Linked DNA regions of Homo sapiens. The protein of the gene in region 2 purifies or fractionates together with the protein of the main gene of each other region. This does not show direct contact. Each region holds a gene or a part of one and is shown on either strand. Other genes may lie near its edges.

Evidence for each region. The genes of interacting proteins can lie anywhere in the genome.
Region 1: the proteins of IFI16 (region 2) and DDX10 purify together in Homo sapiens (affinity purification with mass spectrometry; 3 studies listed by BioGRID and IntAct, with this or other methods). This does not show direct contact.

What each region holds. Positions count from the first base shown.
Region 1 is NC_000011.10:108,667,871-108,676,097, reverse strand, and holds part of DDX10 (probable ATP-dependent RNA helicase DDX10), read right to left. Parts: intron 2,632-8,227; coding exon 2,571-2,631; intron 503-2,570; coding exon 372-502; intron 1-371. UniProt on the Homo sapiens protein: Putative ATP-dependent RNA helicase that plays various role in innate immunity or inflammation. Plays a role in the enhancement of AIM2-induced inflammasome activation by interacting with AIM2 and stabilizing its protein level.
Region 2 is NC_000001.11:159,004,944-159,013,964, reverse strand, and holds the start of IFI16 (gamma-interferon-inducible protein 16), read right to left. Parts: upstream 4,059-9,021; 5' UTR 3,804-4,058; intron 1,459-3,803; exon of another isoform or gene 485-1,458; intron 399-484; exon of another isoform or gene 1-398.

The sequences.
Region 1 (8,227 bases), on a different chromosome or scaffold from region 2:
ATGCCACTGGCAGGCTCACAAGGGTGAGAGCAGAAACTGTCTCCCACCAGTCCTACTGCAGCACAGAACCACTTTAACCTGCCATACTGGAGCACTCCACTTCCATCAAGAATGTAATGACTTGTCAAGGCACAATAGTTCATTCATTCAGTAAGTTATTGAGTGCCTGCCACATGCAAGGCACTGTGCTAGAACCTGGGGAAAATGGTGAGAACAAGACACACATGTGGCTCCTGTTTGATGAAGCTCGCATTCTAGCCAATCTATCATGAAATCTAACATGAAAACATCTCTTTATATAATCTGCATCTGGGCACAGAATGTTATAAAATTGTATAACAGACAGTCTGACCCAATGACAATGTACTTACTGGAACAAGAAAAGCCAGAGTCTTGCCAGATCCAGTTTTGGCCGCTCCAAGTACATCTTTACCTTGCAAAGCCAATCCAATGGTCTGCTTCTGTATCTCAGTCACCAAACGGTACTGAGCTTCTTGCAAACCTGGCAACATGGAGGGAAGAATTATACTTTAGAAGATCCCTGTAGGATGGTATTATAGGCTAAGTGAGTTGTGTCCCCCAAAATTCCTATGTTGAAGCCCTAATGCCTCGTACCTCAGAACATAACTATACTTGGAGACAGGGCCTTTAAAGAGGTTGATTAAGTTAGAGCCCCATAGGGGTGGACTCTGATCCAACACAAACGGTGTCTTTATGAGAAGAAACTTGAACAAAGAGACACCAAGGGTCCACATGCACAGAGGGAAAACCATGTGAAGAGAGACAAGTTATTCTGTGATCCACCTACTCCACTCCTGGGTATAATCCAAAGGGTTTATTAATAAAACCACTACTTTGAAAAGTATTTGTGCTCACATGTTCATTGCAGCATTATTCACAGAAGCCAAGATATGAAATCAACCTAAGTGTCCATGAATGAGTAAAGAAAATATATGTTATATACATACACATACACACACACACACACACACACACACACACACACACAAATGGAATATGACTCAGCCTTTAAAAAGGAAATCCTGTTATTTACAACAACATGGATGAACCTGGAGGACCTTATGTTAACTGAAATAAACCAGGCACAGCAATAAAGATGCCACATAATCTCACTTATATGTAGAATCTAAAAAAGCCAAATTCAAAGGAGCAGAGGGTAGAATGGTAGTTACCAGAAGCTGGGGGAAGTAAGGAGAGTGGGAAGATGTTCATCAAACATACAAAATTTCAGTTAGAAGGAAGAACTTCAAGAGATCTATTGTAGGCCAGGCGTGGTGGCTCACGCCTATAATCCCAGCACTTTGGGAGGCCAAGGCAGGCAGATTCCTTAAAGTTCAGGAGCTCAAGACTAGCCTGGGCAACATGGCAAAACTCTATCTCTACCAAAAATTTTTAAAAATTAGCCAGGCACAGTGGCATGCACCTGCAGTTCCAACTACTCAGGAGGCTGAGATGGGAGGATCACTTGAGCCCAGAAGGCTGAGGATGCAGTGAGCTAAGATCACACAACTGCACTGCACCCTGGGTGACGGAGCAAGACCCTATCTTAAAAAAAAAAAAGAGAGATCTATTATATATCTCTCTTAATATATACTGCTATAGTTAATTAAAATATACTGAAAAAAGAAAAAATACTAAGTAGATTTTAAGAGTTCTAAACACAAAAGGATGAGGTAATATTAGCACATATACAATTAGTTTGATTTAGCCATTCCACAGCATATACATATTTCAAAGCATCATGTATACACTGTAAATATATACAATTTTTTTTTTTGAGACGGTGTCTCACTCTGTTGCCCAGGCTGGAGTAGAGTGGCATGAACCCGCCTCCCAGGTTCAAGTGATTCCCCTGCCTCAGCCTGTAGCTGGGATTACAGGTGCCCGCCACCACACCCAGCTAATTTTTGTATTTTTAGTAGAGACGGGGTTTCACCATGTTGGCCAGGCTGGTCTCAAACTCCTGACCCTGTGATCCACCCACCTCGGCCTCCCAAAGTACTGGGATTACAGGCATGAGCCACCACACCTGGCCAAATATATACAATTTTTATGTATCCAAAAATAAAAAGGCAGCAAGAGGGCAGCCATCCACAAGCCAAGGAGGCCTGGAACAAATCCTTCCCTTATTTTGCCTTAAGAGGAAACCAATGCCACCAACATCTTGATCCCAGACTTCCAACTTCCAGAACTGTGAGAAAATCAGTCTCTGTTGTTTAAGCCACTCAGTCTGATATTTTGTCATCTCAGCCCTAGCAAACAGATACAAAGGGTGTTGCATCTTGGTTTGTTCCCTTGCTTATTTTAACTAACAAAATTAGATTTCATTTTATTCAGAGGATGCTGGAAACTTGTTTTTCTTTTAATTAGTCCAGAAAGAATGAGAATAACGTACTGTTAAAACTTGAATATTGCTTATTTTCATTGGTTTTCATGATATCAAAATTTGCCAAAATAAGATTTTTCAGGCTAAACCCTCTAAATCTTCTCCCATTTATCAAAAATGCCAAGAAATCCAATAACACATCCCAAGATCACCATATACTTACCTTTCAATGTTTTTTTGGACAAGGGAAAATCTGAAAATCTTGTGATTTCATTTACATTTATCTGGAAAAAAAGAAAAAGGAATCAGGGTAACTCATTTGTTTCACGACACAGCCATTTCTTCTCTACATTGTATTGCCCAGCTCATCCTTGGTAATTCAGGGTTGAATTCAATCATCGCTTCTAATTAAAAGCCATCATTCCTTCTGTAACGAAATATGCCCTGAAGAGGCTGTCCCTGAATCGAATATACATTTGTAAGCATTTCAATTGGTAAGGAAAAAAAAGTCACCCAATACACACACACCACACATACTACTATCTGACCTCCAAAATGTTGAACACAGTAAAGCATCACCAACCACATCAATTTTAGGAAGAAAATTTACTTCCTATCATCCTTCAAGGGATCTCAATTTAAGAAACAAGGACAAAATTACCACAAACCACAGATCACAATGAAAATAGTTCTATACACACAATTTGGAAAAAAGAGTGAAATTAGTTGGAGAAATATTTCTTGTTAGCACAATCCTTTCAAAGTTTTAACCATAAATCAGTGGCCTATGAAATCCAACCTGATAACTATTCATTTTGGGGTTACTGAAGGAGGAGTATTATTTCAACACAGGGGAAATGTCTGTCATGCTTTGAAGCCACAATAAGTAACATTTTGCTAACTTTACATTATTCAAATATTCATTACTGATGTTCTTTATTAGCACAAACCCAATTTTCTGAATTTCATTTCAGCTGCTCAGGAGAATTATTTTATTACAGATGCTGAAGGCAGGAACTACTGCTCAGTTCTGGAAATATGCTGCCAAATTATACATGATTCGCAAAAGGAAAAAGCTGCATTTGTATGGTTCATTTATTTAAATTACACTCTAGGCAGTAAAAGGATGACAGTTGTACTTCATTTTACAATCTACACATCTTTCCTATGATTCTTAACATTGCCCAGGCAGTGTTTACTCTGTGCCCTCCAATGCTGAAAATACAAATATTAAAACATTGTCTTAATCCCTACAAATCATTTCAGATATCACTGGAAAGGAGGCAGAATCAGTGTACCAGCATTAGAAGAACGGTTTATTCAAATAACATACTGTCCCAGCAAGGAACCTCAATTAGAAGATAATCTTCCAAACAAGGCATTAAAATTAGGTGTAGCTCACTCTAGCACTCGTGGTATTATCAGCTAAAAAGCTGTTTTCAAAGGGAATGGAATGCCTACAGAAGGAGGCAGGCTGCCAACACACTCTTCAATCCCCAGCAAGAGACACAGTACAGGCAAAGCGAGCTCCTCAAACAAAACATTGCACAGCACATCTATCTTCCTAAAGTCAGTTAACCTCCTGGAGGGAAAGTTTAGAAGAATGAAACTGCTCCAACACTCTTCAATCAAGCATTACAACAGAAAACTATATACCATATTCCTTTTTTTTTTTTTTTTTTTTTTTTCCGAGATGGAGTCTCGCTGTGTCGCCCAGGCTGGAGTGCAGTGGCGCGAACTTGGCTCACTGCAAGCTCCACCTCCCGGGTTCACGCCATTCTCCTGCCTCAGCCTCCCAAGTAGCTGGGGCTACAGGCGCCCACCACCACGCCCAGCTAATTTTTTCTGTATTTTTAGTAGAGACGGGGTTTCATCGTGTTAGCCAGGATGGTCTTGATCTCCTGACCTCGTGATCCACCCGCCTCGGCTTCCCAAAGTGCTGGGATTACAGGCGCCATATTCTTTAAAAGAAGACGAAGAAAAGGAACTTTTGATTCTGTTGATGTTCTAAAATAGGGCCCAGCAAACTACAGCCTACGGGCCAAATCCAATTTGCTGCCTATTTTAGTAAGTAAAGTTTTATTCGAGCACAACTACAATAATTCATTTATTTATTGTCTATGTAGTTGTTGCGGAGACTGTATGGACCATAAAGCCTAACACAGACTATCCAGCCCTTTACAGAAAAAGAGTTTGCTGACCCTGCTCTAGATATTCTGTTATATTCCAAGGATTACATAGCAGCCACAGCAGGAGATGGCTACGGTTCCTACAAAGAAAATAACCCAGCCAGGCACGATGGCTCACGCCTGTAATCCCAACACTTTGGGAGGCCAAGGCAGGCGGATCACCTGGGGTCAGGAGTTCAAGACCAGCCTGGCCAACATGGCGAAACCCTGTCTCTACTAAAATTATAAAAATTAGCCAGATGCAGTGGCGTGCGCCTGTAATCCCAGCTACTTGGGAGGCTGAGGCAGGAGAATCGTTTGAACCCAGGAGGCAGAGGTTGTGGTGAGCAGAGATAGAGCCACTGCACTCCAGCCTGGGCAACAGAGCGAGACTCTACCTCAAAAAAATAACTCTTTCTCCTTCCCTTTATCCCTTTCTTAGGGGGGAAAAATCACTTACATCTCCATAATACTCATACTCAGTCTACAAATCTGTCTCACTATTCTTCTGAATTCAGGGAAGAGATATTTCAGGGATGGTCCTTATTAAAGGCTTCCCACGGCTGTTGGAAAAGTTGAAAAGCGGAGGAGAAAAGGGTGACATTTGACCATCCTCTTATACTTCTCACAACTCTCTGGTAATGCCTATTTCTCGCTAAAGTGAATAATGCCTGATGAAAAAAGCATTGAAACGCCCTAGAATGCTCCACCTGTTGCCGTCAAGAGAAGAACAGCAAACCGCCTCAACTACACCAGACCAAATTTTGATTTAAAAAAAAAAAATCAGGATTTGAATGCAGTTTCTATGCAGTACAGCTGATTACAGTCTAAATGAATCCCAGATGCAAAGAGTCATTCAGCAATAGTAAAAACAGCTGCTGAACTAACACAGCTAGCTCAACATTTCTCAGTGAGCCTCAATCCCCAGTTTTCCAGCAGCCCCTCCAACACACACCACCCCTTAGAAATACACCACCCTCCTGCTGTGAGAAGCATAGTTGACTGACAATGCCAGCTGTGCCTCCTCTAGACCCACCATGGAAAAGCCATGCTTCCCCCGGGCTGCTCCTAGTCAATGGCGGGGCTCAGCAGTGCTACTGCAGGCCCGGGGATTCCTCTGATGGACAATTTTGGATCAGTGACTCCCCATCAGCCTGGCTGAATCTTTCTTGGAACTGTGCTGCAGTCTGAGACTCTTCCTACCTTCCTACCTGCTGCTCCTTCCATCCTTCTCTCCTTTCCCTCCCTACTCCTGTTCCCTCTCCTTCAGCCTTCACGGACATTCCCCCTCCTGTGCCTGTAACCCCTAAAGCTCCAGTTCACCCAATCCCATTTTGTCATCTGCCTCTCAAAGGACCCAAGACCTAGACTCTACCAATAGTCTCCAGTCTCCTACCTGATCTCTTACCCTCCAACCTTTACAGCTCAGATATATTCTCTCTATACAGAGTCCCGCCACATACTTCCCATGGCTTCCAGATAAAGTCTTTGAGCATGGCCTCTGTATAAATTTCCTACTGTTACTGTAATAAATTACCACAAATAGTGGCTTAAACCAACACAAATATATTACCTTAGAGCTCTGGAGGTCAAAAGTCCACAATAGGTTTCGCTTGGCTAAAATCTAGGTGGCAGCAGGGCTGCGTTATTTTCTGATGACTCTACGGCAGAGTCCATTTCCCCGCCTTTTCCAGCTTCTAGAGGCTGCCCACATTCCTAGGTGGTGACCCTCTTCTGTCTTTAAAGTCAGCAACAGACTCCAAGTCTTTCTCACATCACGTCATTCTGACACTGACTCTTCCGCCTCCCTCTTCCACATCTAAGGACACCTGTGATTACATTGGGCCCACCTAATCCAGGATAATCGCCCTACTTTAAGGTCAGCTGATTAGCAACCTTAATTACCCCTTACCATCTAACATATTCACAGGTTCCAGGTATTAGGATGTGGACACTTTAAGAAGCCATTATACTGCATGCTGCAGCCTCCAATGTCATCACAGTCCAACCTTCTTCTCGAACCCATCTGAAGCCAACTCAGGAATGCATCCAACACTCCAAGGAGCATTTCCTCCCTCAAAGAATGCCATGCATTTTCACCTCTCTGTATTTCCCCATGTTCCCTCCACCTAGAACATCCTTGCCAATCTTTTCTATCTGATGAACTCATCATTCAAGAACTAGCTCCACCAGGCACAGTGGCTCACACCTGTAATCCCAGCACTTTGGAATTACAGGTGGGCAGTTCGCTTGAGCACAGGAGTTCAAGACCAGCCTGGGAAATACAGTAAGACTCCATCTCTACAAAAATTACCAAAAAAATTAGCCAGGCCTGGTGGCATGCACCTGTAGTCCTAGCTACTCAGGAGGCTGAGTTGGGTGGGTCACTTGAGCCCAGGAGGTCAAGGCTACAGTGAGCCATGATGGTGCCACTGTACTCTAGCCTGGGTGATAGAGTGAGACTCCATCTTAAAAAAAAAAAAAAAGCTTAGCTCCACTCTTGGCAACTGCAAACCACTGGACAGTTTGTATGCACCACAATGAAATCTGCTAAGACTGAGATGCAGGGGATGAAATCCAGCCCACATCAGCTCCCCAAGCCAGACGTGAGGCTGCAACCACCAGGAGGAAGGGAAGCATACCCAGAAGAAGCATGTTTTTTGTAATGCATCTGACCAGAAGGAGCTCAGTATAGGATAACTCAACTTCCCCTAATTACACCATCCTCTAACTCCACAGCACTGAGGTACATGTTACAAACTTACTATTATAACATTTTATGCATACTAATATAACGTGTCAAACTGTATCAACCCCTACATGCCCAGGTTCCCTAGGGACTTGGGCACGTATTTTTTTTCCATATATACTCACACCCGCCTAGACAAGTGCCTGTCAAATTGTTTTAAAAGGTTTCGGAATCAAATTGTTCAGTAGTTCACCAGTGAGGCTACTGAGCACCACCTGTGTACCATGGCTATGTAGTAAGTTTTATGTACAATGCTACCACCTGAGGAGCCACATAGTGAGGGCCTGCACCTTGTTTACCTAGAGAATGATAATCCTGCTATTCAAATAATTATATCCTAGTATTGCTAACCTTGACAACTGATTTCACACTGCATTTATTTCTCAACCAAATCTTAAGAAAATATTTCTAAAATTAAAGAAGTAAAACAGAACAATGCTTAGCGGGGGAAAAAGCTGCTCCTTCAACAATGAAACAAATGGGATTTAAATAAATGCAATGCAGTAAAGCCTACTGGTTTGGTGCACTGGTATCAGACTACCTGGCTTAGAACTCCTTTTTCACTTCTTAGCTGTTTAACCTTACACAAATTATTTAACCTTGCTGTGCCTTAAAGTTGTCTCACCTGTATAATGGGAACAATTTCACAGGGTTATTTGTGGTGAGTATACGGAAAGCCAGCATGAATAAAAGTTTGATAAATGTTCACAATTACAAGAAACAAAAAAGAATAATCCAATGCTGCCAACCAGAGCAAAGCCACCTGGGAAAGGTCTAGTCTTACAGCAAACAACATCTAAACACTGACTGAGCACCTATTCAAGGACAAGCACTGTGCTACCAGACTCTGGGGAGTGCAAAGACGAGTGTATCACTGGTTGCTGACCTTGAATGTTCATGGTCTAGTAGGAGAGTTTTTTTAAAAAAGTTAAAGAAGCCAATCATCGCAGACAGTTGATAAAT
Region 2 (9,021 bases):
TTTCGCACAATCAGTTTTCTCTCGATAAGCCACATTTATATTCCACTGAAATCCTTCAATATTTCTCCTTTTTCTTCCCCAAAATTCCTTGCTTCCTATACTGTCTCAGAAAGTGTTGAATAAGCTGCATCTTTTTTACTTCTAGTACCTTTGTACTCCTTGTATCTATGCTTCACAAAGATGCCGGACACCTTGTGTCTTCATGCCTCATGACTTTGCTAGTTCCTTCTTACTGCCTGGAAAGCCATTCCCACATTTCTTTCTTTGACTACTTCCCATACAACCTTAAGACTCAACTGAGGCTTTGTCTCATGGTAGATTTCAGAGTCTCCCTATGGACAGAGTGTCACTGCTCTTGACCTCTTAACACCTGTACACTTCCATGATGACAGTGCAAGGTATGGATTCCAAAACTTTTAAATTAATGAATTTTTTAATTTTAGGAATGATGTCTTTGTGTATAACCAAGATATCTAAATTTCAGGGGCTATTAATTGGGCCAGGCGCAGTGGCTCACGCCTGTAATTCCAGCATGTTGGGAGGCCGAGGTGGTCGAATCACAAGTTCCGGAGATCAAAAGCATCCTGGCTAACACAGTGAGACCTCGTTTCCACTAAAAATACCAAAAATTAGCCAGGTGTGGTGGCAAGCGCTTGCAGTCCCAGCTACTCGGGAGGCTGAGGCAGGAGAATTGCTTGAACCCAGGAGACGGAGGTTGCAGTGAGCGGAGATCGTGCCACTACACTCCAGCCTGGGTGACAGAGTGAGACTCCGTCAAAAAAAAAAAAAAAAAAAAAAAAAAGCTTCCTTCTTACGAGAACATGAGGATCCTTGGACTGAAAAGGTCCAGAGAATGAAGGGAAAATCTATACAAAAACACATTATAGTGAAACTGAAGAATATAATGAACAAAAATACTCTGTAAGCCTTCGGTAATGAGGAATAGATCACCTACAAAGATTCAAGAATCAAATTGAAAGTGAATCTCTATATCAAAACTGCCTGAAGCAGGACAATGGAGTTATTTTTATATAATGTTGGTCCAAAGTTCCATATCAATTGCAAAACCAAAAAAAATTTTCAATGGAAAGTTTTGACTTATTTTGTGAGTGTGCTAGAAACAATAAGTTCGTCTTCAAACTTTCCTGTTCTTTCCTGTTCTGTAAACAACCCTTCCTTCCTTTGCCGCCCCAGACATGCCTTCCCGCCTAATTGGTACAGGACAGTGTCTTCCTTCCCGCCTAATTACCCCTATAGAATTTAAAGCAGTAGCCAATCCGGTCAGCTTAGAATGTGCATTGTGACTGACGCAGGCAGCACCCTTCTGTAGAAGCAAATATGCTTTGCTGAGAAATTTCCTGTTTAAGTGCTGGTTTTTCTTTGTGGCACTGAGCACTTGTTTCCAACAAGTGTGACAGCACAATTTATTTGCAAAATAAAACCAGATTTGGGATGACAGTAGGCTATGTATAATCTTTATTTCACTGAAATGTGAACACTCACATGTTTTGTTTTGCAATATTAGTGCTTTTGATTTTGGAGTAATTATTTATATCCCAATGGAGTTTCTAGTAAGACACTATTTAGAATATATACACTAAATAGCCTTTCTGAAGCCTCCAGATTCTTAACTTCAAAATGTATCTAGCTCCACAGCACAGAAGAGGTGCTTTCATCTTGTCTTAAGGGAAAATATAATTTTACATTTTAGAGTTTTAATTTAGGCAAAATGATATTTAAATAGAAGAGTCTCAAAAACTATTTTGTGATACTCAGGGCCTCAGTCTTTTTGCAAGACAAAGACTCATACCACAAGAAAACATCTATTGAAAATAATATTTAATAGGAAAACATGAATAAAATTAAAAATTCTGCCAGCCAAAAGATAAGAAGAGTGAAAAATAAACTTTTTTAGGTGTTCCTAATGTCTTACAAAGAAAACCCTGATCAAATATAAGAGAAACAGAAATTACAACAGCATGGTAAAGGGAGGGAAGAAAAAGAACATGACAATTCACTAAAGCAATTGTCTTAGATAGTGAGATGATATAGAAGTGTCATAAATTGAAGTAAAGACAGCAGATTGTTAATTACCAGCATATACCTAAAAGGTCTGACCTGTTAAGTGACAACTTTCATCAAATTTGATTTAAGAAATCTACATATATATTGTTAACAAAAGGTGAAAAAAATTGTTAAAAATTATCTTGCAAGGAATAACTAAAGAAAGCCAGTTTATCTATGTTTGTGTAATTTTAAATATACCTTAAGCCCAAAAGTAACTTCAGATACCACATGATAAAAGTTTCAACTCCTAGAAAATTATGTTTTAGTTATGAATTTATCTAATTTATCTAATGATATTATTTATTATTTTATAGTGCTTCATGGTACTATAATTAGTATATATTTCTCTTCATATACACACATGTACAGACATCACTACACACATATATGTGTGTACCTGTTTGTATACATGATTATATATACATATATTTGTGTGTGAATGTATATTATATATACACATAACATGTATGTGATTGTGAGAGCACTACAAAGAAAAAAAATTTTTTTTTTTTTTTGAGACAGAGCCTTGCTCTGTCACCCAGGCTGGAGTGTAGTGGCACAGTCTCGGCTCACTGCAACCTCTGCCTCCTGGTTCAAGCGATTCTCCTGCCTCAGTCTCCTGAGTAGCTGGGATTACAGGCACACATGACCATACCCGGCTAATTATTGTATTTTTAATAGAGACAGGGTTTCGCCATGCTGGCCAGGCTGGTCTGGAACTCCTGACGTCAAGTGATCCGCTCGCCTTGGTCTCCCCCAAAGTACTGGGATTACAGGCATGAACCTCTGTGCCCGGCCAAAAAAGCAAACTTTATAATAGGAGATTTCAGTTTATGCTTCAATTACTAAATGAACAAGGTGAAAAAATCTGTAATGATATAATAAATTTGAACAACGTAATTAACAACATTTATCTAATAAAATTCTGAAAACAACATTTAAGAATCTCACATTCCATTTAAGCACACATGAAATATTGTACCAGGCTATAGAAAACATCTTTTAAAAATTTGAAAAGTAAACAATAGTAACCTTTTCCTAACTGCCTTCCCCTCCACTCCCCTATACCTTGCCACAAGGAAAAAAAAAATCATTAACTTTCAGGAGGGCAGAGAGTAATTCCAAAATGATTGAAATTCTGCCGCTAGCACCCGGTGCAGAATGGAGCTAAAGTAAAGGATCAATATACTTATGAAAATATTAAGACACCATGTGCTTGAGTAACTGTGTTTGTGAAACTGAAAAAAATTTTCTACTCTGTGTACATTTGTTCTTATGTTTTGTAAAATTGGGATGATGTCATATAATACATCTCTATGCTCAGATATGTTTTTTACTTAATATTCTTTCATGATACTTTTTTCATGTCACTATCTTGAGAACCCACCACAGCTACCGAGTTTCCAACACTTCTTCCAGCCAAAATAACAGAAGCCCTCTTCTAAGTACCAACTTATGCCAGTATACACTCGGATAATTAATTTTAAAATCTGCAACGGTCAAAATGCATTTTCTCTTGTTCAGTCCTCAGTTGTGGTGGAATAGAAGATGCCTGTTATCTTCCTAAGTAAATGAAGGATTCATATCAAGCAACTCAGTTTTCACTTTTCTGAATACTCAGCCCTACTCCCATCATCCCATGACCCTGAATAACCAATACTGATTGTCCCCTTGTGATTCTGGGGACTTCAAGGAAGGAACAAGATCATATTTACAAAATCAGGAACAGTACTCACCTCACTGGAAATTTTTTCAACAGTAGTCCAGATCTTGAGATCTTCAGAAATGCAGGAATCAATGCTTATTTGTGTGAGGGGGGAGATAAATCAGTAAAGTTCCCAGAAACGGAACCGCAGGATGTTGTAATCTCCAGAAACGCTAAGAAAATGAAGTATCTGCAAAGATAACAAGGAAAAAAGGCCTTGGTTGAGTCACTTAGTTAGCTGACTAGTGCTGGCTTGCTCCTATTCTGCTATTGCCCCAGAGAAAATGGAGTAGGAAACAATGTGGAGACTCCTCCCACCAGTGTTTTTAGCTTTCGTTTCTGTTAGTCAGAGAAAATGAACAGTTTCCTGGCAAGGGCTGGAGCATGTGGTGAGGGGAAATGGGGGATGAGAAATTACTTTAATGGGTACAGTTAACATTTTTCGGGTGATGTGCACACTGAAATCTCTGACTTCACCAATATGGCATATATCCATGTAACGAAATTACACTTGTATCTCATAAATGTATATAAACACAAATAAGTTTTTTTTCTTACAAAATTCGATAGCTGAAAGGAGTTCCAACATTAGAACTTTCTTACCCAGCAGACTTACATGTGAGTCATTAGAGACTTATATTCCCTTAAATGATGCTCAAATATAAGAGAAGCAACATGGCTTCTTCTCCCCTCCTTTCCTGTGCACAGAGTGGCAGTGGCAGGAGGAGATCTTGGTAGGAGCATCTATTGCTACCAATACTTTACTGCATCTCCTGGTTGGGGAAATGTCTGCTATGAAATCGCTATTTGTTTAAATACTACCTGAAGTATTCATCCAATTATTAATAACTGACAAGCCTGGGCTTTCCAGATCAGAAAGTCATTATGAATATGTAAATCCTTCCTTAAATTTATATGAAGGAGTTTAACACTAGCTGTCCTCTTGACCATGACTAGGTTACTTTACCTCAATGATTAGATTCACGAATGCTCAGATTTTCTGCATTATTCCTGGATAAACAAACGTGGATAGTGGACTCTCAACATGACAGCATCGAAGACTTGAAAATCCTGGAAAATGCACTGAACTTCCGGTAGTGTGAGGAGTCTGTTTAATCCTCTGCTCAGCAGTGTATTTTTCTCTGTTAAGGACAGTGGGTGCCCTTTAGCGTGCTGTAACCCCAGGATGTCAAATAAATGGCATCAACTAGCAGATGATGTGGTGTTAACCCAGCAGCAGATCTGCAAGCAGGATGTGGTCATGAGTGGAAAAGGGGCCCCATAGACTGTTAATATGTACTGTCCAAGGCCATCTACAGAGCAAAAGAAAGCTGATTGTTTTAATCCAAACTAGGGCCATGAAGTGAATAGCTGAATTCTGGATTTGAAACCATATGAATAACTTTATCAAAAAAGGAGTAAGTCAAGAAAAAGCAAAGAGGATCTGGAATGATGGCCATAAACATCTCTGGGTGTTCGTGATAATCTTTTACTGGCTTTAGGGTACTCTTTACGTGGATACATTGAGTTGGCCTTAAGGCAGTAGGTAGAGAAGGATATTAAGGCAGTCACTGGGAACCCCAATCCAGAGGTCAAAGGGTAGAGAACCCTTGGAAGTTATGACCCTTCAGAACATTTTCTGCCTTTTACTTATAATCATTTTATATGCAGTAATGTCCTCAATTGGGACTCCAGCATACAACACACAAACTGCGGTCACCTATAAGGGCAACTCAGGACAATGCTCCATAATTCATACCACAAAGATGAAATTTTCATAGATGAAGCAAAGAAATGCTTAAAAATGTGCATTTTCCCCCACTTTGTGGCAGTGGCCAACAATTGCAATTTGTGCTATCATACAGAAAAGTCATTAGTAGAATATACAAAAATTCCTGATAAAGCAAAAAATGTGCGAATATATATACATATATATAAATTATGTAGCTACATTATTACAGTGACTAAATTTATATTAATCAGGCATTATTCTGAATAAAATCTCTCAATTATGTACCTATTTTTGAACAATGAGTGTTCCATTTCTCTCTTTATGACAAAAAGCAGCTTACTATTTTACCTTTCTGGCCTCATTTTCCATACTGTTCCACATATACCAAAGTTTTAGCTGTGCAGAAACATTTATGTCACTTCACACTTTAGAGTATTTGTAGGTGACATTTCTCCTGTCAGTATTGCAAATGTCTTTACCTTGCTAAGAACAAAAAGACCTATTGCACACTGGTTTTTCATGATGCAATAGACTGTGGCATATGCATTGTTCACTTGTTTTGCAAATCAACTCTATGCAGCAAAGTTTCCCCTTTTTAGAGAAGACTACTATCTTAGTTGATTTGGGTCTTCTGGATGCTGAGGGTTCCAAGATCAAGGATGGCCAACTTAGTTTCTGGTATGAGCCCTCTTCCTGGCTTGCACATAGCCATATTTATGCAGGGTCCTCACCTAGTGTTGAGAGAGAGAGAGAGCACTCTCTGATACCTCTTCTTATAAGGGTGCTAATCACATTATGAGGACCCCACCCTCATAAACTACCCACCAAAGGCCTCGTTTTCAAATATCATCACACTGGGAGGTTATGGCTTCATCATATGAATTTAGATAACATAATCCAGTGTGTAGCAGTAATTGAAGCTATTTTCTAAAAACTAGGCGCCTAGTTAGTGTTGGAGCCAAATTCAAACCAGATCTACCTTATTCCAAAGCCCATGCACTTGAATGCTAAGCAAAATTACTTCCTTGATTTACTAATTTCTACACATATTTTTTTCTTTAGCAAAACATCCATGTCCTTTTAAGCTTGTGTGAATGTCATTTTCTTCATTATTTCTTTACAGATTCTCCACTTAACAATATTAGCACAAGGGCATTGTTTGGGTTCTCATGCTTCCTGCTGGGGCTGGACCTTTGCTGTTAAGACACAGAATCTGATTTTCCCAAAGCCTAAACCGAATTATTTTCTTTTTTGGAATACTAACATTTGTCTCTCCAACTCTCACATGAATGGAACCATGCATTTCAGATAATGGCTTTGATGTTTTGTCCATTGATTCTCAGTTGAAATTAGAAGTCAAAGTTTATCTTTTTCGTCACACTTGGTTTTGTGCTGTTTCCTTTTCCCCAATACTTCCATTTTTCTCTGTATTATCTTGTATTTCCTAGATTGTGTTCTACTTAACATATGTATTTGTGATTAAAATTAAAGTATATTATTATATGATAAGGTAAAGGCCAATTCAATTCTATAAACAGTCAGAAATGCGAAATAACACAAAATTACGGACATAAAAGATGGGAGAAGTTTATGGTGCAAATACCTATCGCCTTGGTCTTTTTGTTTGTTTGTTTGTTTTTTGGCACTTGCACCAAGGGTGAATGTAGTTAAACAGGTGGTTATCGGGAAAACGCCCTGCTGGACTAAGAACCACCCTATATTGAAATGCCTAACCTTGTTTTTACTCTAACTCGTTACTTTGAATTTTGTCCTGCTTGTCTCTTTAATCACCCAGCCTTGCTTCTCATGTAAATAAGACTCTCTCTAGCTGGGAAGGTCGGACAAACTCCAATTGACCCCTTAATTTACAAGACACTAAGGGCTCCTTACCCAACCCCCTTTAGTAAGGAGTTGGCCTGGGTAAACAGATCCTCAGCGTTTCAAAAGAGCCCAATTAACTGATAAGGTAGTAACACCAACAATGTATGAAGTTCCCAGGCTTTTTCTCAAAAAGATAACAACATAAAACCTTGAGTTCGTGTCCGGCATAGACCCTATATCTAATTACAATGAAAGATTTACAACCTTGCACCTGGTACCGTTGCTCTTCTTGTAACCATTTGTCTTTTAAGGCATGTTTTTGCTTCTGTAGAATTATTGCATTTGAGTCCCCCTCCCCTTCCTAAACCTAGGTATAAAAGTTAATCAAGCCCCTTCCTCGGGGCCGAGAGAATTTTGAGCATTAGCCGTCTCTTTGGCCACTGGCTTACTAAAGGACTCTTAATTCGTCTCAAAGTGTGGGGTATTTTCTTAACTCGCTTGGGTACAACAATATAAGCACAAGGCAAGCTCAGACCAAAGAAGAGGCAGACCACTCCTGGCTGGTTGGTAGTCAAAGATCTAGATAGCAGAAACTTACACAGGAGGCAGTCTTAAGCGGGAACAAGAGAAGTCAGATCTCCACCTCGCAGTGCACGCCTGAGTAGTCTTTCAGACAGTGAGAAGAAACAAGGAAGGAAAAGCTGATGGGGGCGCTGAGGGGTGGGGATAGCTATACCGATAGTGCCTTAGGCCATCTGGTTGCTCTCTTAATCTATTTACTTCCTGCTTAAATGGATTGTTTGAGCTTCCTTCAATCTGTTCCACATTGCTAAGGAGTGGGAGGATGTTCCTGGAAGCAGCAGTCATCTTGGTGCCAGTATGCATTTTCCAGTGGGACTGCAGCCTCCTACAATTCAATTTAAGCTCAGTTCCCAGAACACGTTTTCACAACAATGCCATTCCTTCCCCTCCAACCTCAAGGCTTCTCTCAGCCAGTCCTTCCTTGAAATTTTGTAGTTTCTGTATTGCAGTTTTGTATTCTACTTTTCCTGTTGCTCAAAGCTAATGCCATAAACTCCAGACAACTCTGTTGGCAGAAAGAGCTTCTGTAGTTCTAGGGATGACCTCTTTACTTTGGAGTGGAATAAAAGAGACTCAGTGTTGAGGCAGGAGAGGAGAGTGAATGCATATGGAAACCTGGGGAGTGATGTGAACCAGTCATGATATACTGTACAAGGCCAGAGTTGGCATCATTCATCTGTTTATTGCATGTCTCATGGAGAAAATATGAGTGAAAGAAGTTTCTGGTTCATGAAAACTCCTGTTCTCTGACCCTCCCTGTAATGGACATGCATACTTTCCCACTGTCTTAGTCCATTTAGTGCTGCTGTAATGGAATACTATAGACTGGGTAATTTATACAGAACAGAAATGTATTTCTCACAGTACTTGAGGTGGAAGTCCAAGGTCAAGCATCAGTATCTGGTGAGGCCTTCTTGCTGTGTCCTCACATGACAAACGGGGCGAATTCACCCCCTACATGCCCGTTAGAGTGGCATTAATCAGTCTATTTACGTGAGTGAAATTCTCATGATCTAAATACCTCCCATTTGGCCCAAGCTCCCAACACTGTTGCATTGGGTACTAAGTTTCAACATTATTTTTGAAGGGGGTAAAAACATTGATAGTTTCTACT